Linked DNA regions of Homo sapiens: region 1 is linked to region 2. Evidence: fine-mapped expression QTL. A gene starts in region 2. The other region holds a variant in brackets. All regions are shown on one strand. Distances are between the middles of the regions.

The links.
Region 1: its variant is fine-mapped to the expression of RXFP3 in monocytes after interferon gamma (Fairfax 2014, PIP 0.95).

Annotation. Positions count from the first base shown.
Region 1 is chr5:33,123,153-33,139,189 of GRCh38, forward strand. No RefSeq gene overlaps it. Among named protein-coding and RNA genes, the nearest start is that of LINC02160, 99 kb to the right of the region's middle. The variant C/CTTCT (reference allele first, on the strand shown) is at 9,963.
Region 2 is chr5:33,927,360-33,943,002 of GRCh38, forward strand. RXFP3 (relaxin family peptide receptor 3) reads left to right here and starts at 9,027. Exons shown (of 1, transcript NM_016568.3): 1 at 9,027-11,559. The coding sequence starts at 9,382. The coding sequence ends at 10,791. RefSeq lists an enhancer at 3,679-4,184.

The sequences.
Region 1 (16,037 bases), 800 kb before region 2:
ACAGACCTGCAGCTGAGGGTGCTGTCTGTTAGAAGGAAAACTAACAAACAGAAAGGACATCCACACCGAAAACCCATCTGTACATCACCATCATCAAAGACCAAAAGTAGATAAAACCACAAAGATGGGGAAAAAAACAGAACAGAAAAACTGGAAACTCTAAAACGCAGAGCGCCTCTCCTCCTCTAAAGGAACGCAGTTCCTCACCAGCAACGGAACAAAGCTGGATGGAGAATGACTTTGACGAGCTGAGAGAAGAAGGCTTCAGATGATCAAATTACTCTGAGCTACGGGAGGACATTCAAACCAAAGGCAAAGAAGTTGAAAACTTTGAAAAAAATTTAGAAGAATGTATAACTAGAATAACCAATACAGAGAAGAGCTTAAAGGAGCTGATGGAGCTGAAAACCAAGGCTCGAGAACTACGTGAAGAATGCAGAAGCCTCAGGAGCTGATGCGATCAACTGGAAGAAAGGGTATCAGCAATGGAAGATGAAATGAATGAAATGAAGCGAGAAGGGAAGGTTAGAGAAAAAAGAATAAAAAGAAATGAGCAAAGCCTCCAAGAAATATGGGACTATGTGAAAAGACCAAATCTACGTCTGATTGGTGTACCTGAAAGTGATGCGGAGAATGGAACCAAGTTGGAAAACACTCTACAGGATATTATCCAGGAGAACTTCCCCAATCTAGCAAGGCAGGCCAACGTTTAGATTCAGGAAATACAGAGAACGCCACAAAGATACTCCTCGAGAAGAGCAACTCCAAGACACATAATTGTCAGATTCACCAAAGTTGAAATGAAGGAAAAAATGTTAAGGGCAGCCAGAGAGAAAGGTCGAGTTACCCTCAAAGGGAAGCCCATCAGACTAACAGCGGATCTCTCGGCAGAAACCCTACAAGCCAGAAGAGAGTGGGGGCCAATATTCAACATTCTTAAAGAAAAGAATTTTCAACCCACAATTTCATATCCAGCCAAACTAAGCTTCATAAGTGAAGGAGAAATAAAATCCTTTACAGACAAGCAAATGCTGAGAGATTTTGTCACCACGAGGCCTGCCCTAAAAGAGCTCCTGAAGGAAGCGCTAAACATGGAAAGGAACAACCGGTACCTGCCGCTGCAAAATCATGCCAAAATGTAAAGATCATCGAGACTAGGAAGAAACTGCATCAACTAACGAGCAAAATCACCAGCTAACATCATAATGACAGGATCAAATTCACACATAACAATATTAACTTTAAATGTAAATGGACTAAATGCTCCAATTAAAAGACACAGACTGGCAAGTTGGATAAAGAGTCAAGACCCATCAGTGTGCTGTATTCAGGAAACCCATCTCACATGCAGAGACACACATAGGCTCAAAATAAAAGGATGGAGGAAGACCTACCAAGCAAATGGAAAACAAAAAAAGGCAGGGGTTGCAATCCTAGTCTCTGATAAAACAGACTTTAAACCAACAAAGATCAAAAGAGACAAAGAAGGCCATTACATAATGGTAAAGGGATCAATTCAACAAGAGGAGCTAACTATCCTAAATATATATGCACCCAATACAGGAGCACCCAGATTCATAAAGCAAGTCCTGAGTGACCTACAAAGAGACTTAGACTCCCACACATTAATAATGGGAGACTTTAACACCCCACTGTCAACATTAGACAGATCAACGAGACAGAAAGTCAAAAAGGATACCCAGGAATTGAACTCAGCTCTGTACCAAGCGGACCTAATAGACATCTACAGAACTCTCCACCCCAAATCAACAGAATATACATTTTTTTCAGCACCACACCACACCTATTCCAAAATTGACCACATACTTGGAAGTAAAGCTCTCCTCAGCAAATGTAAAAGAACAGAAATTATAACAAACTATCTCTCAGACCACAGTGCAATCAAACTAGAACTCAGGATTAAGAATCTCACTCAAAGCCGCTCAACTACATGGAAACTGAACAACCTGCTCCTGAATGACTACTGGGTACATAACGAAATGAAGGCAGAAATAAAGATGTTCTTTGAAACCAACGAGAACAAAGACACAACATACCAGAATCTCTGGGATGCATTCAAAGCAGTGTGTAGAGGAAAATTTATAGCACTAAATGCCCACAAGAGAAAGCAGGAAAGATCCAAAATTGACACCCTAATGTCACAATTAAAAGAACTAGAAAAGCAAGAGCAAACACATTCAAAAGCTAGCAGACGGCAAGAAATAACTAAAATCAGAGCAGAACTGAAGGAAATAGAGACACAAAAAACCCTTCAAAAAATCAATGAATCCAGGAGCTGGTTTTTTGAAAGGATCAACAAAATTGATAGACCGCTAGCAAGACTAATAAAGAAAAAAAGAGAGAAGAATCAAATAGACACAATAAAAAATGATAAAGGGGATATCACCACTGATCCCACAGAAATACCATAAGAGAATACTACAAACACCTCTACGCAAATAAACTAGAAAATCTAGAAGAAATAGATACATTCCTCGACACATACACTCTCCCAAGACTAAACCAGGAATAAGTTGAATCTCTGAATAGACCAATAACAGGAGCTGAAATTGGGGCAATAATCAATAGTTTACCAACCAAAAAGAGTCCAGGACCAGATGGATTCACAGCCGAATTCTACCAGAGGTACAAGGAGGAACTGGTACCATTCCTTCTGAAACTATTCCAATCAATAGAAAAAGAGGGAATCCTCCCTAACTCATTTTATGAGGCCAGCATCATTCTGATACCAAAGCAGGACAGAGACACAACCAAAAAAGAGAATTTTAGACCAATATCCTTGATGAACATTGATGCAAAAATCCTCAATAAAATACTGGCAAACCGAATCCAGCAGCACATCAAAAAGCTTATCCACCATGACCAAGTGGGCTTCATCCCTGGGATGCAAGGCTGGTTCAATATACGCAAATCAATAAATGTAATCCAGCATATAAACAGAGCCAAAGACAAAAACCACATGATTATCTCAATAGATGCAGAAAAAGCCTTTGACAAAATTCAACAACCCTTCATGCTAAAAACTCTCAATAAATTAGGTATTGATGGGACGTATTTCAAAATAATAAGAGCTATCTATGACAAACCCACAGCCAATATCATACTGAATGGGCAAAAACTGGAAGCATTCCCTTTGAAAACTGGCACAAGACAGGGATGCCCTCTCTCACTGCTCCTATTCAACATAGTGTTGGAAGTTCTGGCCAGGGCAATCAGGCAGGAGAAGGAAATAAAGGGTATTCAATTAGGAAAAGAGGAAGTCAAATTGTCCCTGTTTGCAGACGACATGATTGTTTATCTAGAAAACCCCATTGTCTCAGCCCAAAATCTCCTTAAGCTGATAAGCAACTTCAGCAAAGTCTCAGGATACAAAATCAATGTACAAAAATCACAAGCATTCTTATACACCAACAACAGACAAACAGAGAGCCAAATCATGAGTGAACTCCCATTCACAATTGCTTCAAAGAGAATAAAATACCTAGGAATCCAAGTTACAAGGGATGTGAAGCACCTCTTCAAGGAGAACTACAAACCACTGCTCAAGAAAATAAAAGAGGATACAAACAAATGGAAGAACATTCCATGCTCATGGGTAGGAAGAATCAATATCGTGAAAATGGCCATACTGCCCAAGGTAATTTACAGATTCAATGCCATCCCCATCAAGCTACCAATGACTTTCTTCACAGAATTGGGAAAAACTACTTTAAAGTTCATATGGAACCAAAAAAGAGCCCGCATCGCCAAGTCAATCCTAAGCCAAAAGAACAAAGCTGGAGGCATCACACTACCTGACTTCAAACTATACTACAAGGCTACAGTAACCAAAATAGCATGGTACTGGTACCAAAACAGAGATATAGATCAATGGAACAGAACAGAGCCCTCAGAAATAACGCCGCATACGTACAACTATCAGATCTTTGACAAACCTGAGAAAAACAAGCAATGGGGAAAGGATTCCCTATTTAATAAATGGTGCTGGGAAAACTGGCTAGCCATATGTAGAAAGCTGAAACTGGATCCCTTCCTTACACCTTATACAAAAATCAATTCAAGATGGATTAAAGATTTAAACTTTAGACCTAAAACCATAAAAACCCTAGAAGAAAACCTAGGCATTACCATTCAGGACATAGGCATGGGCAAGGACTTCATATCCAAAACACCAAAAGCAATGGCAACAAAAGCCAAAATTGACAAATGGGATCTAATTAAACTAAAGAGCTTCTGCACAGCAAAAGAAACTACCATCAGAGTGAACAGGCAACCTACAACATGGGAGAAAATTTTCACAACCTACTCATCTGACAAAGGGCTAATATCCAGAATCTACAATGAACTCAAACAAATTTACAAGAAAAAAACAAACAACCCCATCAAAAAGTGGGTGAAGGACATGAACAGACACTTCTCAAAAGAAGACATTTATGCAGCCAAAAAACACATGATTAAATGCTCCGCATCACTGGCCATCAGAGAAATGCAAATCAAAACCACTATGAGATATCATCTCACACCAGTTAGAATGGCAATCATTAAAAAGTCAGGAAACAACAGGTGCTGGAGAGGATGTGGAGAAATAGGAACACTTTTACACTGTTGGTGGGACTGTAAACTAGTTCAACCATTGTGGAAGTCAGTGTGGCGATTCCTCAGAGATCTAGAACTAGAAATACCATTTGACCCAGCCATCCCATTACTGGGTATATACCCAAATGACTATAAATCATGCTGCTATAAAGACACATGCACACGTATGTTTATTGCGGCATTATTCACAATAGCAAAGACTTGGAACCAACCCAAATGTCCAACAATGATAGACTGGATTAAGAAAATGTGGCACATATACACCATGGAATACTATGCAGCCATAAAAAATGATGAGTTCATGTCCTTTGTAGGGACATGGATGAAATTGGAAATCATCATTCTCAGTAAACTATCGCAAGAACAAAAAACCAAACACTGCATATTCTCACTCATAGGTGGGAATTGAACAATGAGATCACATGGACACATGAAGGGGAATATCACACTCTGGGGACTGTGGTGGGGTCGGGGGAGCGGGGAGGGATAGCATTGGGAGATATACCTAAGGCTAGATGATGAGTTAGTGGGTGCAGCGCACCAGCATGGCACATGTATACATATTTAACTAACCTGCACAATGTGCACATGTTCCCTAAAACTTAAAGTATAATAAAAAAAAAAAAGAAAAAAAAATAAGAAAAACTAATCCGTCATTCTGCCAAATAAAGATGCCTCTGGGAAATCCAAAAAAAAAAAAAAAAAAAAAGCAATCACAATGTTGCCACAACTGTTGAGCTAGACATCAAATTATAATATCAGGCAGACAAACAGGAACACATTACTAGCTACCCATAGATTTCTAGGGGTAAAGTGGTAACTTTCCACATTTGTGGAAAAGTGATCTTTACTCAGGAACATAATTTTTCTATGTCTAGGGGAAAGATCATTAATGTTAAGTCTGAGAATCCCATTCAGCAGGCCTTACTGAGCTTCACTCCTCCCCACAAAAGCAGCCACCCTTGATAAGGCACACTAGTGATAACAAAGTTCACACATCTATACAAATTCTTCGGGGGAATCTGGGTCAACATAAATTTTTCTTAAAAATTATAGAGTAAATTTCTAGGAGTAAGTAATTAACAACTCTCCCTATTGCATTCCTCTATTTATCTTCATAATATCAGTGACATTAAAAGCATTAACTTTTGAGTTCTTAATTACACAGGGCTCTTGGTTGTATGCAGAGTTATAGAGTCCGTTCTTGCCCTTTAGGAGTTTAAAATCTAAAAACATTTTTTTAAATGCAAAACATAATCTAAATTGAAAATGCCAACTACATGAATAAACAGTAGGTCATCTATAATTTCTCTGCAGCTGTCCTCACGGAGGACCAGAAATTATACTGCCTCGTAAAAGGCATATAGGATTTAAATAGAGGATACTGAGTTTTTGGTATGGTCAAGAAGGAGGGATTAGGGAGGAGAAGTGTGGGAGGAGAAGATGGGGGTGAACAAAAACACACTGGTGAGAAAGTGGAAAGTTGGGCAATGGTGAGTAGCGCTGTTTGATCAGAGCAGGAGGTTCGTGTAGGTAAGTAGTAAACAGAGACTAAAAGAAGAGTCACAGACAACACTGAATACCAGTTTAAAAGTTTGAACTTTATCCTTTGCTGGTGAGTGTCCCCAAAGGAGACATTTCATCAACAATTGAGGAAAACCACACGTCACACTGAATTTACTAAAGCTGGTGTAAGAGGGATGACCTTGAGCAATCTTTTATATGGTATAAATAGCACTAGCTTTCCCAACAGTCACAAAATCTTGCCGTTTTACACAACTGGATATTGATAGAACTGCCACTTGTGGCAAGGTCTCTTGGGCATGCCTTCTGAGCCCTCAAGTTGGTAATCTCTGAGTAGACATTCCAGACACTTACAGAAAAACCAAAGCAGTCATAAATAGCATCAATTCAATTTGCATAGCACCTTTCCTCCAAAATACTTTAAGTGCTAAAGGAGCCTGGCTCTTTACAACAGGACCATGCCAAAACTCACTAAACAAACTGCTTGCTTAAGAGGGATAAATTCCTTGAACAAATGCATCTGTAAACTCTCTACCTCCCTCATTATGGTTTGCACAGGGCAGTGCCACAGATCCAAACAGTGGCCAGAGGCAGAATATCTCCAACTGATGAATGGAAGCAGAAAGGCTGTCTGTGCAAGTGCAGCTCTCTCTTTTTTTGTTTTAGATGGAGTCTCGCTCTGTCGTCCAGGCTGGAGTGCAGTGGCACGATCTTGGCTCTCTGCAACCTCTGCCTCCCGGATTCAAGTGATTCTCCTGCCTCAGCCTCCCGAATCTTAGCTGGGATTACAGGCATGCACCACCATGCCCGGCTAATTTTGTATTTTTAGTAGAGACAGGGTTTCTCCATGTTGGTCAGGCTGGTCTCGAACTCCTGACCTCAGGTGATCTGCCTGCCTCGGCCTCCTAAAGTGCTGGGATTACAGGCGTGAGCCACCAAGCCTGGCTGCAAGTGCAGCTCTCAAGGTCAGCATAGCACTGCTCTAACCTTGGAATGTGTCCCATTAACTGTTGGCTGGCATCTCTGGCCCAAATAAAACTCCTATTTTTAGAAAAATTTTATTGTAAGTTTTTTAAATTATACTTTAAGTTTTAGGGTACATGTGCACATTGTGCAGGTTAGTTACATATGTATACATGCACCATGCTGGTGCGCTGCACCCACTAACTCGTCATCTAGCATTAGGTATATACATGCATGGATTCATTTATGAACTCTATTCTATTTCATTGGTCAATGTGTCTATTTTTATGCCAGTACCATGCTGTTTTAATTACTATAGCTTTGTAGTATAGTTTGATATCAGGTGGTGTGATACCTCCAGTTTTTTTCCTTTTGCTCATGATTACTTTGGCTATTTGGTTTTTTTATACTTTCATATGCATTTTAGAATTTGATATGGTTTGGCTGTGTCCTCACCCAAATCTCATCTTGAATTCCCATGTTGCAGGAGGTAACTGAATCATGGGGGCAGGTCTTTCCCATGCTGTTCTTGTGATAGTTAATACATGTCATGAGATCTGACGGTTGTAAAAACGGGAGTCTCCCTCCACAAGCTCTCTCTTCTTCTATGCCACCATGTGAGACATGCCTTTCACCTTCCACCATGATTGTGAGGCCTCCCCAGCCATATAGAATTTGTAAGTCCAATAAACCTCTTTCTTTTGTAAATTGCCCAGTCTTGGGTATGTCTTTATCAGCAGCATGAAAACAGACTAATACAGTAAATTGGTACCAGTAGAATGGGATGCTGCTGAAAAGATACCTGAAAATGTGGAAGCGACTTTGGAACTAGGTAACAGGAAGAGGATGGAACAGTTTGGAGGGCTCAGATGAAGAAGGGAAAGTTTGGAACTTTCTAGAGACTTGTTGAATGGCTTTGCCCAAAATGCTAATAGCTATATGGACAATAAAATCCAGGCTGAGGTGGTCTCAGATGGAGATGAGGAACTTGTTGGGAACTGGAGCAAACATTATTCTTGTTATGTTTTAGCAAAGAGACTGGCAGCATTTTGCCCCTGCCGTAGAGATTTGTCAAACTTTGAACTTGAGAGGGATGATTTAGGTTATCTGGTGGAAGGAATTTCTAAGCAGCAAAGCATTCAAGAGGTGACTTGGGTGCTGTTAAGAGCATTCAGTTTTAAAAGTGAAACAGAGCATAAGAGTTAGGAAAATTTGCAGCCTGACAATGCGATAGAAAAGAAAATCCCATTTTCCGAGAAGAAATTCAAGCTAGCTACAGAAATTTGCATAAATAACAAAGAGCTGAATGTTAATCACCAAGATAATGGGGAAAATGTCTCTAGGGCATGTCAGAGACCTTTGCAGCAGCCACTCCCATCACAGGCTCAGAGACTTAGGAAGAAAAAATGGTTTTGTGGGCTGGGCCCAAGGTCCCCATGCTGTGTGCAGACTAGGGACTTGGTACCCCACGTCCCAGCTGCTACAGCTGTGTCTGAAGGGGTCCAATGTAGAGCTTGGGCCATGGCTTCAGAGGGTGCAAGCCTCAAGCCTTGGCAGCTTCCATGTGGTATTGAGCCTGCAAGTGCACAGAAGTAAAGAACTGGGGTTTGGGAACTTCCACCTAGATTTCAGAAGGTATATGGAAACACCTGGATGCCCAGGCAAAAGTTTGCTGAGGGGGTGGGGCCCTCATGGAGAACCTCTGGTAGGGCAGTGTGGAAGGGAAATGTGGGGTTGTATCCCTCACACAGAGTCCCTACTGGGGCACCATCTAATGGAGCTGTGAGAAGAGGGCCACCATCCTCCACACCCCAGAATGGTGGATCCACCAACAGCTTGCACTGTGTGCCTAGAAAAGCCTCAGACACTCAGTGCCAGCCTGTGAAAGCAGCTGGGAGGGAGGCTGTACCCTGAAAAGCCATAGGGACAGAGCTGCCCAAGACCATGGGAACCCACCTCTTACATCAGCATGACCTGCATGTAATACATGAAGTCAAAGGAGATCATTTGGAGCTTAATTTGACTGCCCTGATGAATTCTAGACTTGCATGGGGCCTGTAGCCCCTTTGTTTTGGCCCATTTATCCCATTTGTAATGGGTGTATTTACTCAATGCCTGTACTCACACTGCATCTAGAAAGTAACTAAAATGCTTTTGATTTTACAGGCTCATAGTCAGAAGGAACTTGATGTGTCTCAGATGAGACTTTGAACTGTGGACTCCTGCGTTAATGCTGAAATGAGTTAAGACTTTGGGGGACTGTTGGGAAGGCATGATTAATTTTGAAATGTGAGGACATAAGATTTGGGAGGGGCCAGGGGAAGAATGATATGGTTTGGCTGTGTCCCCACTCAAATCTCATCTTGAATTCCCACATATTGTGGGAGGGACCTCTTGGGAGGTAACTGAATCATACAGGCAGGTCTTTCCTGTGCTGTTCTCATGACAGCGAATACGTCTCAGGAGATCTGATGGTTTTAAAAACAGGAGTCTCCCTGCACAAGCCCTTTTCTCTTGTATGCTGCCATGTGTTACGTGCCTTTCACCTTCTGCCACGAACGTGAGGCTTCCCCAGCCACGTGGAACTGTAAGTCAAATAAACCTCTTTCTTTTGTAAATCGCCCAGTCTGAGATATGTCTTTATCAGCAGCATGAAAACAGACCAATACATAATTGTTTTCTATTTGTAGGAAAAATAACATTGGAATTTTGATAAAGATTGCATTAAATCTATAGGTTGCTTTGGCTGGACATTTTAACAATAATTCTTCTAATCCATGAGTACAGGGATATCTTTCCATTTGTGTTTTCTCAAATTTCTTTTTCTTTCTTTCTTTCTTTCTTTCTTTCTTTCTTTC[C/CTTCT]TTCTTTCTTTCTTTCTTTCTTTCTTTCTTGTTTCTTTTCTTTCTCTCTTTCTTTCTTTCTCTCTTTCTTTCTTTCTTTCATTTATTTTTTTGAGATGGAGTCTCACACTGTCACTCAGGCTGGAGTGCAGTGGTGTGATCTTGGCTCACTGCAGCCTCTACCCTCTAGGTTTGAGCAATTACCCTGCCTCAGCCTCCCAAGTAGCTGGTGTTACAGGTGCCTGCCACCATACCCAGCTAATTTTTGTATTTTTAGTAGAGATGGGGTTTCGCCATGTTGGCGAGGCTGGTCTCTAACTCCTGGCCTCAAGTGATCCACCCGCCTTGGCCTCCCAAAGTGCTGGGATTACAGGTGTGAGCCACCATGCCTGGCCTCTTCAATTTCTTTAATCAATGTTTTAAAGGGTTCGGCATACAGGTCTTTCACTTCCTTGGTTAAACTTATTTCTAAGTAACATTTTTTATGGCTATTGTAAATGAGATTGTTCTCTTGATTTCTTTTTTAAGTAGTTCATTGTTAGTGTATAGAAATATTACTAATTTTTGTGTGTTGATTTTGTATCCTGAAACTTTACTGTATTTGTGTATTAGTCCTAATAGTTTTGTGGTGGAATCTTCAGGTTTTCTATAGATAAGATCATGTTGTCAGCAAAAAGTAACAATTTCACTTCCTTTCCTATTTGAATACATTTTATTTCTTTCTTTTGCCTAATTGCTTAGGCAAAGACTTCCAACACTATGTTAAATACAAGTGCCACAAGTGGGCATCCCTATCTTTTTCCAGATCTTAGAAAAAAGGCTTTTAATTTTTCACTGTTGAGTATGTTAGCTGTGGGCTTATTATATACAGCCTTTATTGTGTTGAGGTACATTCCTTCTATACCTAATTTGATGAGATTTTTTATCATCAAAGGATGTTAAACTTTGTCAGTTTCTTTTTCTGTATCAAATGAGATGATTTTTGGTGGCTTTCTTTTTGTCCTTCATTCTGTTAATGTGGTGTGTCACATTTATTGATTTGTGTATGTTGAACCATTTTTGTATACTGGGGAAAATCACACTTGATCATGGCAAATGATTCTTTTAATGTATTGTTGAATTTGATTTGCTAGTATTTTGTTGAAGATTTTTGCATCAAAATTTATAGAAAATATTAAATTTATGTAATTTCTTTTCTTGTAATGTTCTTTTCTGCTTTAGTATCAGGGTAATGCTAGCTTCATTAAAAAGTCTGGAAGTATTCCATCCTCTCCAATTTTTTCTAAGTGTTTGAGAAGGATTGGTGCTAATTCTTCTTTAATCATTTGGTAGAATTCAGCAGTGAAGCCATAGGTCCTGGTCTTTTCTTTGATGGAAGACTTTGTATTACTGATTCAATCTTCTTACTTATTATTGGTAGGTTCAGATTTTCTATTTCTTTATCATTCATGGTAGGGCATACATGTCTATGAATTTAACCATTTTTTCTAGGTTAGATAATCTGTGTATAATTGTTCATAATCATCATTTGTGACCCTTTGTATTTCTCTGGTATAAGTTGCAATATCTCCTCTTTCATTTATGATTGTATTTATTTGAGTCTTTTTCTTTTTTCTTGGTCTAGATGTAGGTTTTTCAATTTCACTTATCTTTCCCAAAAATCAACTCTTAGTTTCATCAATCTTTTGTATTGTTTTTCTAGTCTCCCACCTAAGTACTAACCTTTCTTAGCTTCTGAGATCAGACAAGATTTTTTCCTAATCTCTATTTCATTTATTTCTGCTCCAATCTTTATTACTTCCTTCCTTTTTAATGTCGGGATTAGTTTGTTCTTTTTCTAATGTTACTTCTTTGAGAAGTAACATTAAGTTGTTTATTTGATATCTTTTTTGATGTAGGCATGTATTGTTATAAACTTACCTCTTAAAACTGCTTTTTCTGTATCTTGTAAGTTTTGGTATGTTGTATTTCCATTTTGGTTTGTCTCAAGATATTTTTAAATTTCTCTTTTAATTCAATTTGTTGTCCATTCAGGAGCATGTTGTTTAATTTTTATAAATTTGCGAATTTTCTAAAATTCTTCCTGTTATTGATTTCTAGTTTCATATCATTGTGGCTGGAAAAGATACTTGATATGATTTTAGTCTTCTTAATTTGCTAAGACTTGTTTTATGGCCTTTCATTATCTATCCTAGAGAATGTCCAATGTGTACTTCAGAAGAATGTGTATTCTGTTGCTGTTGGATGGAATGTTCTGTATAAGTCTGGTAGGTCCAATTAGTCTAAGGTGCTATTCAAGTCCAATGTTTTCTTATTAATTTTCTGTCTGGATGATCTACCCATTGTTGAAAGTGGAACATTAATATCCCCTACTATTATTGTACTGAATAATATCTATCTCTCCTTTCATATCCTTTAATATTTATTTTATATATTTAGGTGCTCCAATATTGGGTGCAAATATATTTACAATTGTTACATCCTCTTGAGGAATTGATCCATTTGTCATTATATACTGTCCTTGTCTCTTTTTACAGTTTTTGACTTAAAGTCTATTTTTTTCTGATATAAGTATAGCTACCGCTTTCTTTTGGTTTCCATTTAGGTGGAATAATATTTTTCCATGCCTTCACTTTCAGTGTATATGTGTCCTTAAAAATGTGGTGAGTCCCTTTGAGGCAGCATATAGTTGGGTCATGTTGTTGTTGCTGTTTTCCATTAAGTTACTTCAAGCATTTTTATGGGAGAATTTAATGCATTACATTCAAGGACATTATTGATAGGTAAGGACATGTTACTATCATTTTGTGAATTGTTTTCTGGTTGTTTTATAGTTATTTTACTTCCTTCTTCATCTCTTGCTGTCTTCCTTTATGGTTTGATGGTTTTATGTAGTGGTATGCTTTGAATTCTTTTTTTTCCTTGTGATTCTACTAAAGATTTTTGCTTTATGTTTACCATGATACTTACATAGAACATATTATACTTATAACAGACTATTTCAAGCTAATATCAACTTTGATGTCATAATCTACATTTTTACTCCCCTTCCTCACATTTTACATCTTTGATGTCACAATGGACATCATTTTGTAAAGTGTATCCCTTGACAATTTATTTTGGCTACACCTTTTATTAATAGTTTTGTATTTTAACCTTTGTGCCAGAGATAAAATTGCTTTAAACACCATTTTTATGTTCCCAGAGTATTCTCAACATGGCTCTGTATTACTAACATTCAGTTTTGTGCTTTCATTTGTTTTATGTCCTTAATTAGCAGCTTTTTGTTTTGGATTAAATAACTCCCTTTAGCAATTCTTGTAAAGCACATCTACTGGTAATGAACTCCTTTAGTTTTTATTCATCTGTTAAAGTTTTTATTTCTCCCTCATGTCTGAAAGAGAGCTTCACTATGTAAAGTATTCTTAGTCATCAGTGTTTCTCCTTTAGCACTTTGAATATAATATCACACTCTCTCCGGTCTTGCAGGGTTTTTGCTGAGAAATCTGCTGATAGTCATATTGAGACTCCTTTATATGTGATATTGAGACTCCTTTATATATCTTATCTCTTGCTGATCTCAGGATTCTTTGCCTTTGATTTTTGATATTTTGATTATTACTGGTAGAATTTGTAGACTTCTGCACTTCCTATACCTGAATGTTGGCATCTATCCCCAAATTGAGGAATTTTTCAGCCATTATTTCCAGAAATATGCTTTCTGGCCCTTTCTCTCTTTTTTCTTCTCTGATACTTCTATTATGCGAAGGTTTGGTGTCTTGATAGTGTTCAATAATTCCCACAGGCTTTCTTCATTCTTTTGTTTTTCTGCTCCTTTGACTGAATAATTTCAGATGCTTTTTCTTCAAGCTCATTGATTCTTTTTCTGCTTGGTCAAGTCTGCTGATGAAGCTTTCTAGTGCATTTTTTCAGTTTAGTCACTGTATTCTTCATCTCTAGGATTTCTAGTTTTGTAAAAAAATTGTTTCTATTTGTTGAACTAGCTTTGTTTGTGTATTGTTTTACAAATTTCACTTAATTTTCTATCCATATATTCTTGTAGTTCACTGAATTTCTTTAAGAGGATTATTCTGAATTCATTTTCAGTCATTTTATAGACCTGTATTTCTTAGAAGTGTCATGATTTCTTGATTCCTCACAATCCTTGTGGTGTTGTCTGTGCATTTAAAGAGAGAGCCTCCTCTTCCAACTTTTACAGGTGTTCTTTGGCAGGGATAGGTCTTCATTATTTATTGTAGTCTGAAATTCTAAAATGGCAAGCTGGTGACAACCTTAGGCAGGAAGAGTTTGTGTGGGTTCTCTAGGTGGCTGAGTTATTGTCTTTGCTCTGATGTCAGATGGGGCTACTGGCTGGACTCAGCTGTCCAGTGAGATCACTTGCTGGGCTCTGCTATCAGGCAGAGCTTCTGGCTTGGTACTGTGATGGCGTCTGGTCAGGCTGGTCACAGGATGTATTTCCTGGCTGGGCAGTTCCATTATTCGGAATCTGCAACTGGGCAGGTCTACAGTGGCCCTGACCTCTGAGGTTAGGCAGAGTTGCTACTCCAGAAGGGTGGAACCTGAGGCTATGCTCCTTAGAAATGCATAATTGGGGATTGCCTCTATGTCCAGGCAGAGCCATAGAGTGAACTTTTGACTGAGTCAAACTGTTGTTTAATTTCCAAGGTTGAGCAGGTCTAGTCCCTATGCTTCTCTGTAATGTGAAGAAGTTAATATCTCCTTGCCCGAATGGGGTCACCAGGGGCTTTTTGGCTAAACTGAGCCATTCTGCACTTGCAGGTCAAGCACTTCTAGCCCCTAAGCTTCTCTGAATGGGCTAAGGCAAGCATCTCCTTGCCCAGGTGAAGTGGTTGGGGTGTCTCAAGAGGCTGATTGTGGAGACTAGTTGTCTAGAGACTCAAGCCAAAGTTAAACTTTTCACTGTGCTTCTGAAAGCAACCAGTTCAGCTTTGCAGGTGTGCTATGCACTTGCTGGGCTCTCCAATTGGGTGCCACAATTGGTAGGAACACGGAGGTACCACCAAGATCCACACACTGGTCACTGTGAGCTCCACCTTCATTCTTTGTTTCTACTTGACTTTGAACAGTTTAGCTATGTCATTACCCTCAGTGTATCCCATAAGATGACGAAGGAAACATCTCAGAATGCTAGGGACACTGGATGACTGCCTCCATTTCTTTTTTCCCACTATAAAAACTGTGGGTCCAGGGGAATCTTCTCTGTCTGGCACTGTGCCAACTTCAAGGGGGTTGAGGGGGTAGTGACACAGCTGAAGTGAGATTTTTCTTTTCTTTTCTTTTCTTTTTTTGAGACAGAGTGTTGCTCTGTCGCCCAGGCTGGAGTGCAGTGGTGTGATCTCAGCTCACTGCAAGCTCCGCCTCCTGGGTTCACACCATTCTCCTGCCTCAGCTCCCGAGTAGCTGGGACTACAGGTGTCTGCCACCATGCCTGGCTAAATTTTTCTATTTTTTAGTAGAGACGGGGTTTCACCATGTTAGCCAGGATGGTCTCGATCTCCTGACCTCATGATCTGCCCACCTCGGCCTCCCAAAGTGCTGGGATTACAGGCATGAGCCACCGTGCCCGGCCAAAGTGAGACTTTTCTAATTCAGTTATCATTTAATTCCACGGACCACATGGGTGTCTCAGCCTTGTTTCCAAGTATTGAAATTTTCAGAAAGATGTTATGGTCTGTAGATAGTTGCTCATTGAACTTTCTGTGTCGAGGAGGGTGAGCACAGCCTGAGACTTCCTATTCTGATACCTTGCTTACCAAACTCTTATCTTTGACTCCTTGTTATTCACATACTCCTGACAGGCTAATTTTCAGAAAATATATTTTTTTCAAAATCAGCACTGTACAATACCCTTCAGTACTTCTACAATGACTGAAAACTCAAGCTTAGACATCAATCAGATGTTCCAAGGCTGAGGTCTTGCCTGACTACTTATTGACCTACTATTTTCTTTCTTACATTTTACATCCCCTCTGCTCTACCTAGGATTGTCTTCTCTCTATTCCTAAATATGTTACACTCATTCTCAGCCAAATATGCTCATTAATGCTAGATCTT
Region 2 (15,643 bases):
AGGGATTTTTTTAGGCTGGGCACAGTGGCTCACGCCTGTAATCCCAGCATGTTGGGAGGCCAAGGCGGGTGGATCACAAGGTCAGGAGATTAAGACCATCCTGCTTAACCAGGTGAAGCCCTATCTCTACTAAAAATACAAAAAATTAGCCAGGTGTGGTGGCACGTGCCTGTAGTCCCAGCTACTCGGGAGGCTCAGCAGGAGAATCGCTTGAACCTGGGAGGCTGAGGTTGCAGTGAGCTGAGATCGTGCCTCTGCACTTCAGTCTGAGCGACGGAGCGAGACTCCATCTCAAAAAAAAGAAAAAGGATTTTTTGGTTCCACAACACAGGCTTAGTTAAACAGTAGTATAAATTCTTACACATGATCTTGTGGTTCATTTTCAAGAACAGATTCAAAAAGTCAAGTACATTCTATGTGTGTTAGCATTCCAGCAGCAGTCTCCAAGGGTCACACTTGGGAACAAGTTCTCCTGGGGTCCTGTAACCACCCAACGTGTTGACCTTGCGCACCGCTTAGACAGAGCCAATTTATCAGGAAAGGGAAATTGCAATGCAGAAAGAATCATTCACGCAGAGCCAGCTGTGCAGCAGACCTGGAGTTTTGTTATTCAAATCAGTCTCCCTGAGCATTCAGGGATCAGAGTTTTTAAAGATAATTTGGTGGGTAGGGGCTCAGGAAGTGGGGAGTGCTGATTGGTTAGGTTGGAGATAGAATCATAGTGGGGGTCAAAGTGAGGTTTGCTTGCTGTCTTCTGTTCCTGGGTAGGATTGCAGAACTGGTTGAGCCAGATTAATAGTCTGGGTGGTGTCAGCTGGTCCATCAAGTACAGGGTCTGCAAAATATTTCAAGCACCGATCTTCAGTTTTACAATATTGATGTTATCCCCATCAGCAATTTGGGGAGATTCAGACTCTTGCAGCCAGAGGCTGCATGACTCTTAAACCATAATTTCTACTCTTGTAGCTAATTTGTTAGTCCTACGAAGGCAGACTGGTCCCAAGGCAAAAAGGGGTTTTTTTTGGGGAAAGGGCTGCTATCAATTTTGTTTCAGAGTCAAATCATAAACTGAATGCCTTCCCGAGGTTAGTTCAGCCTATGCCCAGGAGTGAGCAAGGACAGCTTAAAAGATAGAAGCAAGATGGGGTCAGTTAGGTCTGATCTCTTTCAAAGTCATAATTTCCTCATTTATAATTTTTCAAAGGCAGTTTCAGTTTCAGCTTGGGTCTCATGTTGGTTGGTACTCATGGCCTGATGTACCTCCAGAGCACATGACCCTCATAGTCCAACAATGAAGAGATATCACCTGTCAGGCTTCAATATCCCCTTCTCTGTATGTCTTTTACTTCCAATCGCAGTGTATGATAAACCATCATTGCAGATTAATTCTTTGAGATTTAAAATTTGTTTACATAGAGTGTTAGAACTAGAATAAAATTTAGTCCAGAGGTTCTCAAACTTGAAAAAAAAATAGTATCACCTGGAAGAATGTTTGAAATGTAGATTCCTGGGCTCCTTTCCAATCCACTGAGAATCAGAATCTGGGGTCTGAAGAGCGATGCAACCCGTATTTTTTAGCAAGCTCTAGTTGATTCTGATGTCACCGATTCAGTGTCTATCTTAGAATATTCAAGAACCTCAATTCCTTCGTTATATAGATGAGGAACCTGAGACCCAGAAGCATTGTTCCAGGACCAAACTGAGGGTCGGGCTTCTATTTCTCATGGCCCAATAATGAGATGCAGATGAACTGGGGAAGAAGAGAGTTTTTATTTCTGTAGCCGGTTACAGGGAGTAGGCCTGGAAATTATCGCCAGACCTATTCAAAATTACAAAGTTTTCCAGAGTTTATAAACCTTCTAAGCTGTATGTCTACTTGTAAGTGTGCATTCATCTAAAGACATAAGTGATTAACTTCTTTTAATCTATAACTACGGTCTGAGTCTTGAAGACCTTTCTCTGGAGCCTCAGTAAATTTACTTAATCTAAATGGATCCAGGTGCTGGCGTGATTACCCTTATCTTGTCTCCTGCTAAATTACGGAGGCTTGAGGAGTTTCTTCAGACCCCCCAACGAACTTGTTTGAGGCCTGGGGAGTTTCTTCAGCCCCACGATAAAACTTGTTTCATCCTAAATGGGTCCTGTTAAGAATTCCTTCTTTATTTTGTCATGCTTTAAGGCCCAGGAAAGGCCTAGATAAAACTCTTGATGGGCTTTTGTTACATACCAGCCTTTGTATAAAGCCACTGGCTTTTCGTATTTAACTTAACCACTCAGTACTGAAAGAGTTGTTATGGAGGCCTGTGTTTGGTGAGACTTGGCTTCTACACTGTCATTTGACTGGGGTATCGTTATCTGGTTACTTAGTGTCAGACCTCAGATTTCTCACTTCCAAATAAGAATGCCCTATCCCTGGGCTTCTCTTTCCAACATTCAAATCCCTATTAAATTAGAATGCCTGTTGGAGAAGTCTAACCTGAATCTTAGTTGGGAGACATCTGAACACAAAGTTCCAAAGGTACAACCCGTGTCTGTTTGTAGTTTCCTTCACTTGCAGAATGGGCTCGGGAGGACCAGCAGCACAATGTCCTCAGGCTATGGAGCAGGCCCCTGAGTGAGCCAGAGCCTTCTTTAGCACGGTGGTGATGGAGGCGGCATCCAGTAGCCACAGGACTAAACCATTCCACTGTGGGTGGACATCAGAACTGCCAATGTGCCAAGGTCCGGGTTTCCTGAACTTCTCTTCCATCTAGGCAATGTCAGGGAAGTCTTAACCATAATGTATGAGCGAGAGCCTCTGAAGTTTCCCAAGGCAGGTCTGCTCATCTATTTAAAAGAAATTAGCAAGCTCTGCTTTAGCTTAACTGAAGAGCATCTAGAGAAAGGATGGGGATTTCCAGTGAAAAGGATGCATTGCACCAATGCTCGGAGGGGTGTGTATGTAGCATACAAAAATGTAACATGCTGTTGTTCTCTATACACCCTTCCAACTCCCACCTAAAGGGGAGGTCCCTTGAATTGTTTTCCTAGAAGTGAGAATGAGTAACAAAAGATTCTTTCACAGTCTCCTGCCATTTCCCTTTCTAACAAATGGTTCATGTTTAGCCCAGTGGTTTGCAACCTTGGGGAAGGAAGAGATATTTGCCTCCAGGGTATGTCTGGCAATGTTTGGAGACAGTTTTGGTTGTCTGACAAGACAACATCTGGGATTGCTACTGGTATCTAACAAGTAGAGGCCAGAAATGCTAGTAAATAATAATCATACAATGCAGCCCCTCCCACATAACAATGAATTATATGGCCTAAAATGTCAATAGTTTCAAGGTTGAGAAATTTTAATTTAGACTAAAGTGACTGCTTAGATTAGCAGTGGTGCCTGAGGACCCCAAAGGCTCAAACTCTTTGATTTGTTAGGCAGTTAATCGACTCAATTAAAGAGTCAATTGACTCAATTAAAGCGTCAATTAACAAACCAAAGGGTGAAATGTTAGTCAATATCTCTGAATCCCTTTCTAATTCTGTCACTGACTTGCCAGTTGAACTGAAACAAACTTTTGTCTCTCCTGTTGACTCAGTTTCTTTGGTTGCTAGAAGTCAATGAGAATAGCTTTCTAGTTTCATTGGTATCTCCTCTCCCAGTATCTGCCTCCCGAAATAGTGCCCCAAGGTTTTCAATGGTCTCCATGTCCATAAATCCAATGAACATTTCTCCTTTCCTGCCTTCCTTGGCCTCACATTAGACACAGCATTAAATACAGCCCCTGCTTTTTTTCCCCTACATTTCTTTTATTTCTTGGCTTCCATGTGTGAAAGGAAAGTATCTTGGGCCCCCAAAATTACTGAAGAAAACTCAAGCTGGAAACTGCTTGGAGCAAATCTGCCTCCCATTCTATTCAAAGTCACCTCTCTGTTCACTGAGATAGACGCATACCTGATTTTCCTCCTTTGGAAAGGCTAATCAGAAACTCAAAAGAATGTAGCCCTTTGCATATCACCTTCTGTGACCTGGAAGCTCTCTCCCCCGCTTCGAGTCTTCCTGCCTTTGCTTCAAGTTGTCCCGCCTTTCCAGACTGAACCAATGTACTTCTTACATATATTGATTGACGTCTTATGTCTCCCTAAAATGTATATAACCAAGCTGTGCCCCAACCACCTTGGGCACATGTCATCAGGACCTCCTGAGGCTGTGTCATGGGCTCGTGTCCTCAACCCTGGCAAAATAAACTTTCTAAATTAACTGAGACCCGTCTCGGATTTTCGGGGTTCACATGTCACAGGCTCCTAGTTTTCCTCTTTTCTAGCTCTAATTCTCATTGTCATAAACAGTGAGAATATTCATTAAATATACATGTAGCAATTATCATCAACAGGCTTTCCAACCTCTACCAGACAGTCCAATCTCAGATTTCCCCCAGGTTTAACAAGAGATTTCTTCTCACTCTACACTTTTTCTCTAGACAGTCTCATCAATGTCAAAGCTTCAATTATAATCTATACACTGCAGACCCACATATTTTTATCTTCTCTGAGTCACTGATTCATGTATTCAACTGTCTTTTTGACATCTAAATCTGATTGGGGCATTCACACTCTCATATGTCCAGCCTGAATGTGTCATCTTCCCCCACCTCACTTGCTCAGCATGCCTACCTACCCACATGCTCAGGGTAAAAACTTGAAAGCTTTTAATTTGTCCTTACCTTCACCCTTTCTTTGTATGCAGTCCACCCCCAAGTACTGTCAAGTCAGTGTCTTAAATGCCTATTTAAATCTTATTCTGCCCCGCATCCCTCTAGATTAAAGTACAATCATCTCTCTCCTGAACTATTGATGTAGCTTCCTAATTGTCTTGATTTATATCAGCTCCGCCCCTTCCAGTCTACTCATCACACTATATCTAGAGTGATGGTTTGAATATGCGAAACTGATTGTGTTGCTCCCCTGCTTCAAATTTTCCAATGTCCTCCATTACTCCAAAGTCATAGATCAAAATTCTGCAGTCGGAAATTGTTTGACACCTGCCCATGTCACCAGACTATCTAGCACTATTTACTTCATCTCCCTGTGTTATAGGCACTTCATCTTCTTTCTGTCCTACAAAAGCATCATGCTCTTTCCTGCCCAGTGCCTTCACTCAGGCTGTTCCTTCTGCCCAGAGTCCTCTTTCTTCCCCTTTCCTTACCCCCACCTCACCCCCATTTACCTGATTATAGAATTTCCTTTCTTCCAAGATACTATAGCTTATAAGACACACCTTTTGTTTACAGCTTTCTAGAGAAAAAAATTATTCACTAAATAGGTATATAGCAATTGGAAATCCATATTGATCTTAAAAATCTTTAATTTGATAAGATGTGAATCTTAGAATTAGATAAATATGCTTGTAAATAGTTAAAAGTTAGTTACTTGCACATGGTTTTGTAACTTTCTATTTTACTCTGTTTTTTTCTTATTGTAATTATAATAATACAATTTATTAGAATTTTTTTTTTTTTTTTGAAATGGCGTCTTGCTCTGTTGCCCAGGCTGGAGTCCAGCCATGTGATCTCAGCTCATTGCAACCCCCACCTCCTGGGCTCAAGCAAGTCTCCTGGCTCAGCCTCCAGAGTAGCTGGGACTACAGGCATGTGCCACTACACACAGCTAATTTTTGTATTTTTAGTAGAGACGGGGTTTCACCATGTTGGCTAGGCTGGTCTTGAACTCCTGACCTTAAGTGATCTGCCTGCCTCAGCACCCCAAAGTGCTGGAATTACAGACATGAGACAGTGTGCCCAACCCAGAATTCAAATTTTTAAAAGGTCTCTCTCATCTATTAGAATGTGAGTTCTGGTACCACTAAATCTCTAGTACATGACACAGTGTCTAGCACAAAGTCGGTGTTAAGATTAACCAACATGTTCAAATCAGAATTGCTCCATTTCCCATTAGGTTATGTTCAAGCCAGGCTGTGTACCCACCCTATGCTAGTTTCTATTGCTATTATAACACATGGGCAGAAATGTTGTGGCTTAAAAGAAGGTACATTTATTCTCTCACAGTTCTGGAGATCAGAGATTCAAAATCAGTTTCACTAGAGTAAAGCCAAGATGTCAGAAGAGCTGTTTCCTTCTTGAGGCTTTAGGAGAGAATCCATCTTTTTGCTTAGTTAAGCTTCTAGTGGCTGCAAAGTTCCTTTGGCTGTATAAAGTAACATCCAAGGGCTTGGGAAATGGGATGTGGACATATTTGTGTGTGGGGGGAGGCATTATTCAGCCTACCACCCACCCCTGTGTTGAAAAACAATATGGAAGACTTAGATCCAAATTGGAAAATGGAGCATAGATCAAGAGACATCACTTAAGAGTCAAGACTATGTTTTAGACCGGGTGTGGCTCCTTCCTAGTGGTGAGATTCTTGGTAAATACCTTCATTTCTTCAAGCCTCCTCCGCAAAATGCTGGACCAAAGCAGGTGATTTCTTCCCTTCTATGATCATGGGCTCCCAATGGTTACATGCTAGAGTATGATTTTATGCTGTCCTCATGGCTTCGCATGGCCCACATGGCTTCAGGAACACAAAAGAAGCCCAGAAAAAGGTTTCAAGATCCCATACCCTGCCACTGTGAATGAGAGACAGTTTCTTGATGCTGATTTTCCTCCAGGCCCCCATCACAGCCTGGTTTCAATTTTGGTAAGAAGAGGAACAGAAAAACAGACCACATATGTAACATAACAAGCTCTGCACCCTTCCTCCTTTATGGTTTCTTTAAATACCAACATAGAGTACCCCCTCCCAAAAAACCTAAAACTGGAATATCCCATCAAGGTATAACTATTTATTACCTACCCACCCCTTAAAAAAAAAGGGAAATAATAAAAGAGGTAAAATTATTGTCCACTTATCTGGCATGAATCATTACATTCTAGATAACTTAGTCATGCACAAAACTAAACAAAAAATATAGTTTTAGACACTAGTAGATTGCACACTCATCTAGATTAAGAATTCCAGAGACGCTCAAAATAGAGGACTTATGTCTTTCAGCCTATCTCAGTGCCTGGCAAGAGTAAGTGGCCAATGAATGTGAGATGAATTGAATCAGGCCCCTATAATTTTTTCATAAAGTATGAATATGTACATGTGATTTGGAGCAGACCAAGTAGATATATTCCTGGGTGTGCCTAGAAGCACTGAGAAGCTGTGTATGTGTTAGATGGAGGTCATTGGTGTGAACATACCAAAAATTTAACAGCAGAGAGCTTTCAGGGTATGCCCCAGCTTTTCTTGTGTTTCAACAGCCCCTTGAAATATTAGAAAAGAGAAATAGAGACATAGATGAAGAGAGAGAGAAAATTGATGGAGAAATAACCAGTTAAAAATAAAGTCAAAACTGAGTGTGAAAGTGAGGCTACTAAAACCAGGATAATAGTCATCCATAGAAATAACCTGTGCTTTGGGAGGAATCCTCAGGGCAGGGGTGATCTCCAGGTAAGAACTGATCAAAGGAGATGTTTGTGTTTGGCTAGGTTTTTACTAAAGCCCTTACTCCCTCTAGTGGGAAGACGGAGCTGTGCAGCATCCGTAGCAAGGTGTGTGCTCTTCAGGGCTAAAAGTCCTTTGGAATCAAGATTGTTTCTTGTTTCTTTTTTTTTCTTTTTTCCTTTTTCTCTTTCTTTTCTTTTCTTTCTTTCTTTCTTTCTTTCTTTCTTTCTTTCTTTCTTTCTTTTTCGTTTTTCTCTTTCTTTCTTTTTCTGTTTCTTATCTCCTCAGCTTGAAGGTTGCATCCTCTTTATCTCCTTAAGTAAAGCTGGGAGTTCTGTAGTACTCCAGGAGTGAGGACAATTATGCTTAAGAAACTTTGGTTTCAGTTTAGTCCCAGACCAAGAGGAAAACATTTCAAAATTTTAAAGTAAATCCTAAAAGTGTAATTTACACCAGAGCGATTGACCTGGCATTTATGTAGACTGAAGCTTGAGAAGTAATTCAAGTGGTTTCCACTCATTCCCTTGGAAGAGTCCTTAGAATGTACTTCCATTGGTCTGAAAAACGCCTGAAAAAGAGTCCTGATGCTAACAGTAATGGAAATAGGAGGGCTGGTGGTTCACGATCAGCCCAGTGGTATCCTCTATTCTATTTGCATCTAGGTAAAGAGACTGTGGCCTGTATGTGATCAAACAATTTGTTGAAGCGCTTTGGGCTTAGGGCATTTAATTTCTGTGAAGTAGGACCATCAGTTGTTTGCTCTGTTTTTGTGTCACCTCTCAGAATACATTAAAGTAGGGGCAACCCTTGAGCCCAGACTTCTGCCATGTGAAGACCCTTTGAAAATCCTGACAAACACAGGTACTGCGTAAGTGGTCAGCTAATTAAAGAGGGGAGGTGGAGCTGTCCTTTGTGTATCCAATAAGTACCCATTATCTCATTTGAGCATGAAAAGAGGCCACTGTTATTACTTTCAAGAAGGAAAGTAAGCAGGATAGCTCATATTTTTAGAACAATTCCTCACCAAATGGAATAATTCCGGTGAAAAGTGGGAGTGAGGAAGAAAGAAAAAAAAAACTTCTAATCATAATGTTTGGGAATAAGAAAGGAAGAAGAAACTCACGTCAAAGCCGACTTTCTCCTGCAGCTGTAAAATAAACTCTTAAGACCCTTCCTGCTGAAACTCTGGAGAGGAAAACTGGAGTGGCGGGTGGGCTTTGCCTGCAGCTCAACTCTCCCTCGCGGCGCGGGCGCGGCTGGGTTCAGCACCTCGGAAAGCGCCCCTCGCGGCGCCCCGGGATTACGCATGCTCCTTGGGGCCCGCCGCCTTGGCCGTGCAAGTGCCACCGTAACTGGTGAGAGCCGCTGGCAACCCACCCGGAGTTGACAACCGCGGAGAGACGCAGACACCCACTGACCTCCAGGAAGCTGAGCGTGGTGGATGGAACTCTACGATCTCTTTCTCTCCAAGGACGGAAACCTCATCCAAGCAGTCCCAGAGGAAACGGATAAAGGTATTTGAAAGGGAGCGAGCGGCCCCAAATCGCACAATTGAGCGGCTGGGGGAGTTATGCGCCAGTGCCCCAGTGACCGCGGGACACGGAGAGGGGAAGTCTGCGTTGTACATAAGGACCTAGGGACTCCGAGCTTGGCCTGAGAACCCTTGGACGCCGAGTGCTTGCCTTACGGGCTGCACTCCTCAACTCTGCTCCAAAGCAGCCGCTGAGCTCAACTCCTGCGTCCAGGGCGTTCGCTGCGCGCCAGGACGCGCTTAGTACCCAGTTCCTGGGCTCTCTCTTCAGTAGCTGCTTTGAAAGCTCCCACGCACGTCCCGCAGGCTAGCCTGGCAACAAAACTGGGGTAAACCGTGTTATCTTAGGTCTTGTCCCCCAGAACATGACCTAGAGGTACCTGCGCATGCAGATGGCCGATGCAGCCACGATAGCCACCATGAATAAGGCAGCAGGCGGGGACAAGCTAGCAGAACTCTTCAGTCTGGTCCCGGACCTTCTGGAGGCGGCCAACACGAGTGGTAACGCGTCGCTGCAGCTTCCGGACTTGTGGTGGGAGCTGGGGCTGGAGTTGCCGGACGGCGCGCCGCCAGGACATCCCCCGGGCAGCGGCGGGGCAGAGAGCGCGGACACAGAGGCCCGGGTGCGGATTCTCATCAGCGTGGTGTACTGGGTGGTGTGCGCCCTGGGGTTGGCGGGCAACCTGCTGGTTCTCTACCTGATGAAGAGCATGCAGGGCTGGCGCAAGTCCTCTATCAACCTCTTCGTCACCAACCTGGCGCTGACGGACTTTCAGTTTGTGCTCACCCTGCCCTTCTGGGCGGTGGAGAACGCTCTTGACTTCAAATGGCCCTTCGGCAAGGCCATGTGTAAGATCGTGTCCATGGTGACGTCCATGAACATGTACGCCAGCGTGTTCTTCCTCACTGCCATGAGTGTGACGCGCTACCATTCGGTGGCCTCGGCTCTGAAGAGCCACCGGACCCGAGGACACGGCCGGGGCGACTGCTGCGGCCGGAGCCTGGGGGACAGCTGCTGCTTCTCGGCCAAGGCGCTGTGTGTGTGGATCTGGGCTTTGGCCGCGCTGGCCTCGCTGCCCAGTGCCATTTTCTCCACCACGGTCAAGGTGATGGGCGAGGAGCTGTGCCTGGTGCGTTTCCCGGACAAGTTGCTGGGCCGCGACAGGCAGTTCTGGCTGGGCCTCTACCACTCGCAGAAGGTGCTGCTGGGCTTCGTGCTGCCGCTGGGCATCATTATCTTGTGCTACCTGCTGCTGGTGCGCTTCATCGCCGACCGCCGCGCGGCGGGGACCAAAGGAGGGGCCGCGGTAGCCGGAGGACGCCCGACCGGAGCCAGCGCCCGGAGACTGTCGAAGGTCACCAAATCAGTGACCATCGTTGTCCTGTCCTTCTTCCTGTGTTGGCTGCCCAACCAGGCGCTCACCACCTGGAGCATCCTCATCAAGTTCAACGCGGTGCCCTTCAGCCAGGAGTATTTCCTGTGCCAGGTATACGCGTTCCCTGTGAGCGTGTGCCTAGCGCACTCCAACAGCTGCCTCAACCCCGTCCTCTACTGCCTCGTGCGCCGCGAGTTCCGCAAGGCGCTCAAGAGCCTGCTGTGGCGCATCGCGTCTCCTTCGATCACCAGCATGCGCCCCTTCACCGCCACTACCAAGCCGGAGCACGAGGATCAGGGGCTGCAGGCCCCGGCGCCGCCCCACGCGGCCGCGGAGCCGGACCTGCTCTACTACCCACCTGGCGTCGTGGTCTACAGCGGGGGGCGCTACGACCTGCTGCCCAGCAGCTCTGCCTACTGACGCAGGCCTCAGGCCCAGGGCGCGCCGTCGGGGCAAGGTGGCCTTCCCCGGGCGGTAAAGAGGTGAAAGGATGAAGGAGGGCTGGGGGGGGCCCCATTTAAGAAGTAGGTGGGAGGAGGATGGGCAGAGCATGGAGGAGGAGCCTGTGGATAGGCCGAGGACCTTCTCTGGAGAGGAGATGCTTCGAAATCGGGTGGAGAGAGGAAATTGGCAAAGGGATAGAGACGAGCCCCACGGGCCAGACAGCCAACCTCCGCTCCGCACCCCACAGCCTCTCCTTACTCTTCCCACGCTGAGTAGTGTGGGGGCGCCCAGAAGCGAAGACAAGCAGCAAAAATGTAGAGAAATTGGCACGGGGAGCGGGGCTTAGCCAAATGATGCACAGACAATTGTGCCCGTTTATTCCAGCGACTTCTGCGGAGAGGGCAGCCGTCGGCACAAACACTCCTTTGCGTCTTGGCAAACGAGACTGCAGCAGCGCCAAGGTCCTACTTGCTGCGGGGCTGCCCCAGGAATCTAGAGCTGGTAGGCAAGAAACGCTTTTGGAGTTAAGAAAAAGAACTGACCATCCTGGTCCGCCCACAGGAGAAACGGCAAAGGAAAGCCACCTCCAATGGAGTCATTATGACAATTATCATTCCGGACTGGGCCAGCGGGAACACCCTGAGCCCGACCTAGCTGCACAGCCCCGGAGCTCAGACGTTAGCAGGGGGATAACACCTGTCACCAGCTTGGGAGAGCCATTCTCTGGGGAGTGTCGTCGCTGCGGGAGGGAGGAGACACAGTGTGATTAGAAGGGCTGGACAGGGAAATTTCTTCAGGCTGCTGCCCCAAAAGGTAAAAGGGGGCTCATATGCTCACTTGGTAGCAGAGTTGGAAGTGGAGCGCTGGCGCGTTGCGCGCAGGAAGCTCGGGCGCTCCAGTTCCTCTGAGAGCAGTCTGCGTGCTGCCGGTGAGCTGGGCCCGGAGGCATCTTGAATAGCTCTACTGGGAGGAGTGGGGGCACTTCTTCAGTTCCTCCCTTCCCACGCTTTGGGAATCAAGCTGTTCCTTTGATTGAGGCCCTGGACCAGCGAGTAGAGGGATGGTTCAGTATTTATTTTATTATTAATTTTTTTCTGGTAGGCTTAGATAGAAGAGGAAGAAATACCGCAGAAATGTGCAAGGGGAATTGGGGCGGGGGGCGGGGGGAAGTGGAATCTTGGAAACCAAATTCCTAGAAGCTGGGTCGGATCTCTCAAACAGAGGTGTGGGGTAGGAAAGAAAATAGAAGGTTCAGGTACCATGTTCTAAAGCGAGCAGAGTACTGGGGAAACTGTTCTGAGGGTATCATCAGAATTTCAGTTGTGGGCTTTTTTATTGCTTATATTATTGACAAGAGAAGGTAGGAAATAGTAATTCCCATCGGACATTACCATCACCAATTTCCATTTATTCTAAAGAGTGCTTTACATATTAAGCATGCATGACAAATTCTTTCCCAGCCTCCAGACAGTTTATGGAGCTGTCTCTGAAGACCGCCTCACATTTCTCATGTTGACTCTGTTTTGATCACAGGAGCTTAAGATGTTAAACCCTCACAAAGTCCTTTCTTGAGGCTCTTCTAAGAACTGGGATCAAACATCAGTCTACCTACCCCTCTGCTGGCTTTCATAGAGGTACTGCTACTCTCTTCGGCAACCTGGTTTGGGGCCAAAAAACCAATGATGCAGGCACCCACCAGGGTGGTTGGTTTAATATAAAAAATAGCCATTCGTAAAAACAGGTCTGTTTAAAGAGCCTCTTGAACGGTAGAATTGTTTAGTGATGTCGTTGAAAGTTTTCTGCAGTATCTGAGATTCAGGGCTCAAAATGTGAGATCTACAACTCCCACCTTCCCTGATCTGCTTTCTGTGATTGCAAAACACAGTGAAATGACTAAACACTCATGCCTTCCCACAAAGGCAGAAGCTGCCAGTCGCGATTCTGAGCAGTCTTGTGAAGTCAGCTCTTTTAGAAAACTGAATGGTGTGTTTGTTTTGAAGTAGTCCATTTTTTTCTTCACCCTTTGGGAAGAACAATTATTGATATAGATATTGAATAGCAATTAGGCTAACAAAGACTGAAATGTAAGCTCCACAAAGGTCCCCAAAATACAAAATACATGAAAAAGTAAACACAGGAGAAAACTAACATTTGCACGGTAGGAGATACATCTATAACACGGATAATAGACTCTTACTGAGAGATTCTTATCAAAGCAAATTTCCATTTCAATTTAACAATAAAATAATGTATGGGTAGCTCAGAATTTTTAGGAAAGGGTGTTGAAGTATGTGCATCTGCTACTATGGGCACTAGAAAAACAGCAAAGAAGGAGCTGGAGGAATGGGAAAAAAATAACCTCTATAAAAAGGGTCACTTTGTCCAAATCCCAAGCACAAGGCTTCTGAGAACATGGCAGGAGGGATCAAAGATCATGACTTTGGTCTACCACAAAGACAAAAGGGTCACCAAAGGAAATGGTCAGATCAATTGTAATCAACAATTACTTTTTGAGTGGCTGTTTTGTGCCATCCCCTGTGCAGGGTGCTGAGGTGATGTACACGAACCAGACACGTTTCTGACCTCCACACGTAAAAGGACAGACAGCGGTGAGCACAAGCAAGATAAGACAGGGAATGATCAGCTGAATGTCAAAGTAAGGCTGAAAGAAAGAAAGACAAAGGAAGGAAAAGTTGATCCTGCTGGGAGGTCAGACTTTCTGGTCAAAATAATATTTGAGACAGGTCTAAATATATGGGCACAGTTTAGGCAGAATGGCAGGGGTTGGTTCGGAGGTAGAGAGGATATTCAACGCTAATAAAATGTGGTGACTAAAAGCTTTGATGTTGGAATGTCGGATGCTTGGTTAGGGAAGCAGGAAACAAAGTAGTAGGGATTCTCTTTCTCTTGCAGGATTTCCCAGGATTTCTGTTGAGAGTATGCGTCCTTGTACTAGTTTTATTTGTCTGGGGAAAGGAAATTTCTTTTGCCAGAAAGAATATGTCATTGGTATACTGAGAACAAATACTTAGATTCCCAAATGTGGTTAAAGACTTTGAAAATTGGATTATATTTATTCATTCAAACCTCAAGGGAGTTGAGTTCAATGAGTATTTGCATATTTGTGTGTGTGTGTGTGTGTGCGCGCGCACAAGTGCCCTGTGGTTGGTTAGGGATGACTACATTTGACTTCTTGGGGGTTCAATAAGATGGCCCTTAGCTGTGGGTCACCTTTCCAGCTGGCCCATCTATTCATTTCCAAATCTTCACACATCAGAACAGTTTTTGGAGAAACGGACAGGAAATAAACACTGAACCCTGGAGAGGATTCCATTTCTAAACCTTGCAGAGGCCAAGTACAGGTAAGGGAGATAAGACAGGTGGCTTGTCGCTGTTTCTTTCCTAATGCCAAGAGTTATGTGCCATGAAGTCCTCTGAACATTTACCCATCCTCATCCCACACAATGGGGTTGGGAGCAGGTGTTTTCCCTCGTGGCCTCTCTAAATGAGTCATTAACTTATTTCTCCAGGATGGATAATGGCAGGGGGATGGGAGGGTGGAGTAGAGAAGAAGGGGTAATTTTGTATATATTCTGTAAAAAGAAAGAGATTATTTCATTTGGGAGTGAATGTACTAATAGAATACAGGAGGACCTGATTGGGAAGCAGAAAATGAGAAGGGAGCAAGGCTTGGAGGGTGATAAGTAAAAGAGCATGCTCAAGCCAGAGAAGACAGCCTAGCTGGGTCTGGAAAGCACCAGTGATCTGGAGAGAATGGGACAGACACACTGCAGGAGCCTGGATAAGGAAGCTGCATGCCCTGCAGGTGACGAGGTTGAGCAGGGGGCAGGAAGAAGTGGCCACTTTAGCATAAACCCCTGCCCTCTATTGTTCCCCCCAACATATACACCAGAAGTGGCCAGACTCACAGGGGCATTTCAGATGCCTTGCTCCACACCCCAGCACTGCCTCAGTCACAGGTATAAGAACCAGGTAGCTGCAGAGAGTGGGTTCTTTAAACACAAAGGAGGTAATGGTAGAATTGAAGCAACAAAGTGGAAGCCCAAGCAGCAGCAGCAGGAGGAAAGCGCGTGTGAGATATCAGGGATGCCACTGCCTTATAAGACACTTGGGGAGGCTGGGAAGGAGAAGGAGGCTGCAGCACAGAATGACAACAAATGGCTCTTTGCTCCTAGGCTGGCCAACTTCAGTAGATACGGTCCTTAGCCCTGGGCAGCCAGGGCCCCTGGTCTGGGTGTCATCATTAGAGGAGACCCTGCTCTTCCCCTGCCCCTCCCCACATGGCAAGGATTGCACAGGACCTTCTGGAATCTGTGCCCCCCTAGTCCTCCCACCTCCTAGATTATGCTTGGGTACGTGAGACCTTGGAATCTCTTGTCCAAATGGCCCTGAGTCTATTTACAAGGAATCCATGGGTTCTTTCTTGAGTCTATCCTCCAGAGGGAATTCCATGCCACTGAGTCTGTCCACCCTTAAGTGGCTAAGGGTGGTCGTTTGCAGGAGCGATAGAGGGTGGAGGCAGGTGGGAGGCTATGGATGTGCTGACGCCAGCATGCACACAAGGACTCTACACTGCCTAGGTAGAGAGAGGAGTGGGGGAAGCAGTGAAGAGGGATGGGCTGTGGATCACATGCCTCCATTCATGTGCCAGACACCAGGCTAAGTGCTGTCCATACAGGAAGCAACGGAACCAAAGTGACTGGGTTCAAAGCCCAGCTCTGTCACTTAAGAATTGTGTGGTTTCAGATAAGTTATATCTTTCTGCCTCCATTTCTTTATCTAAAAAATGGAGAGTGGTAACAGCACC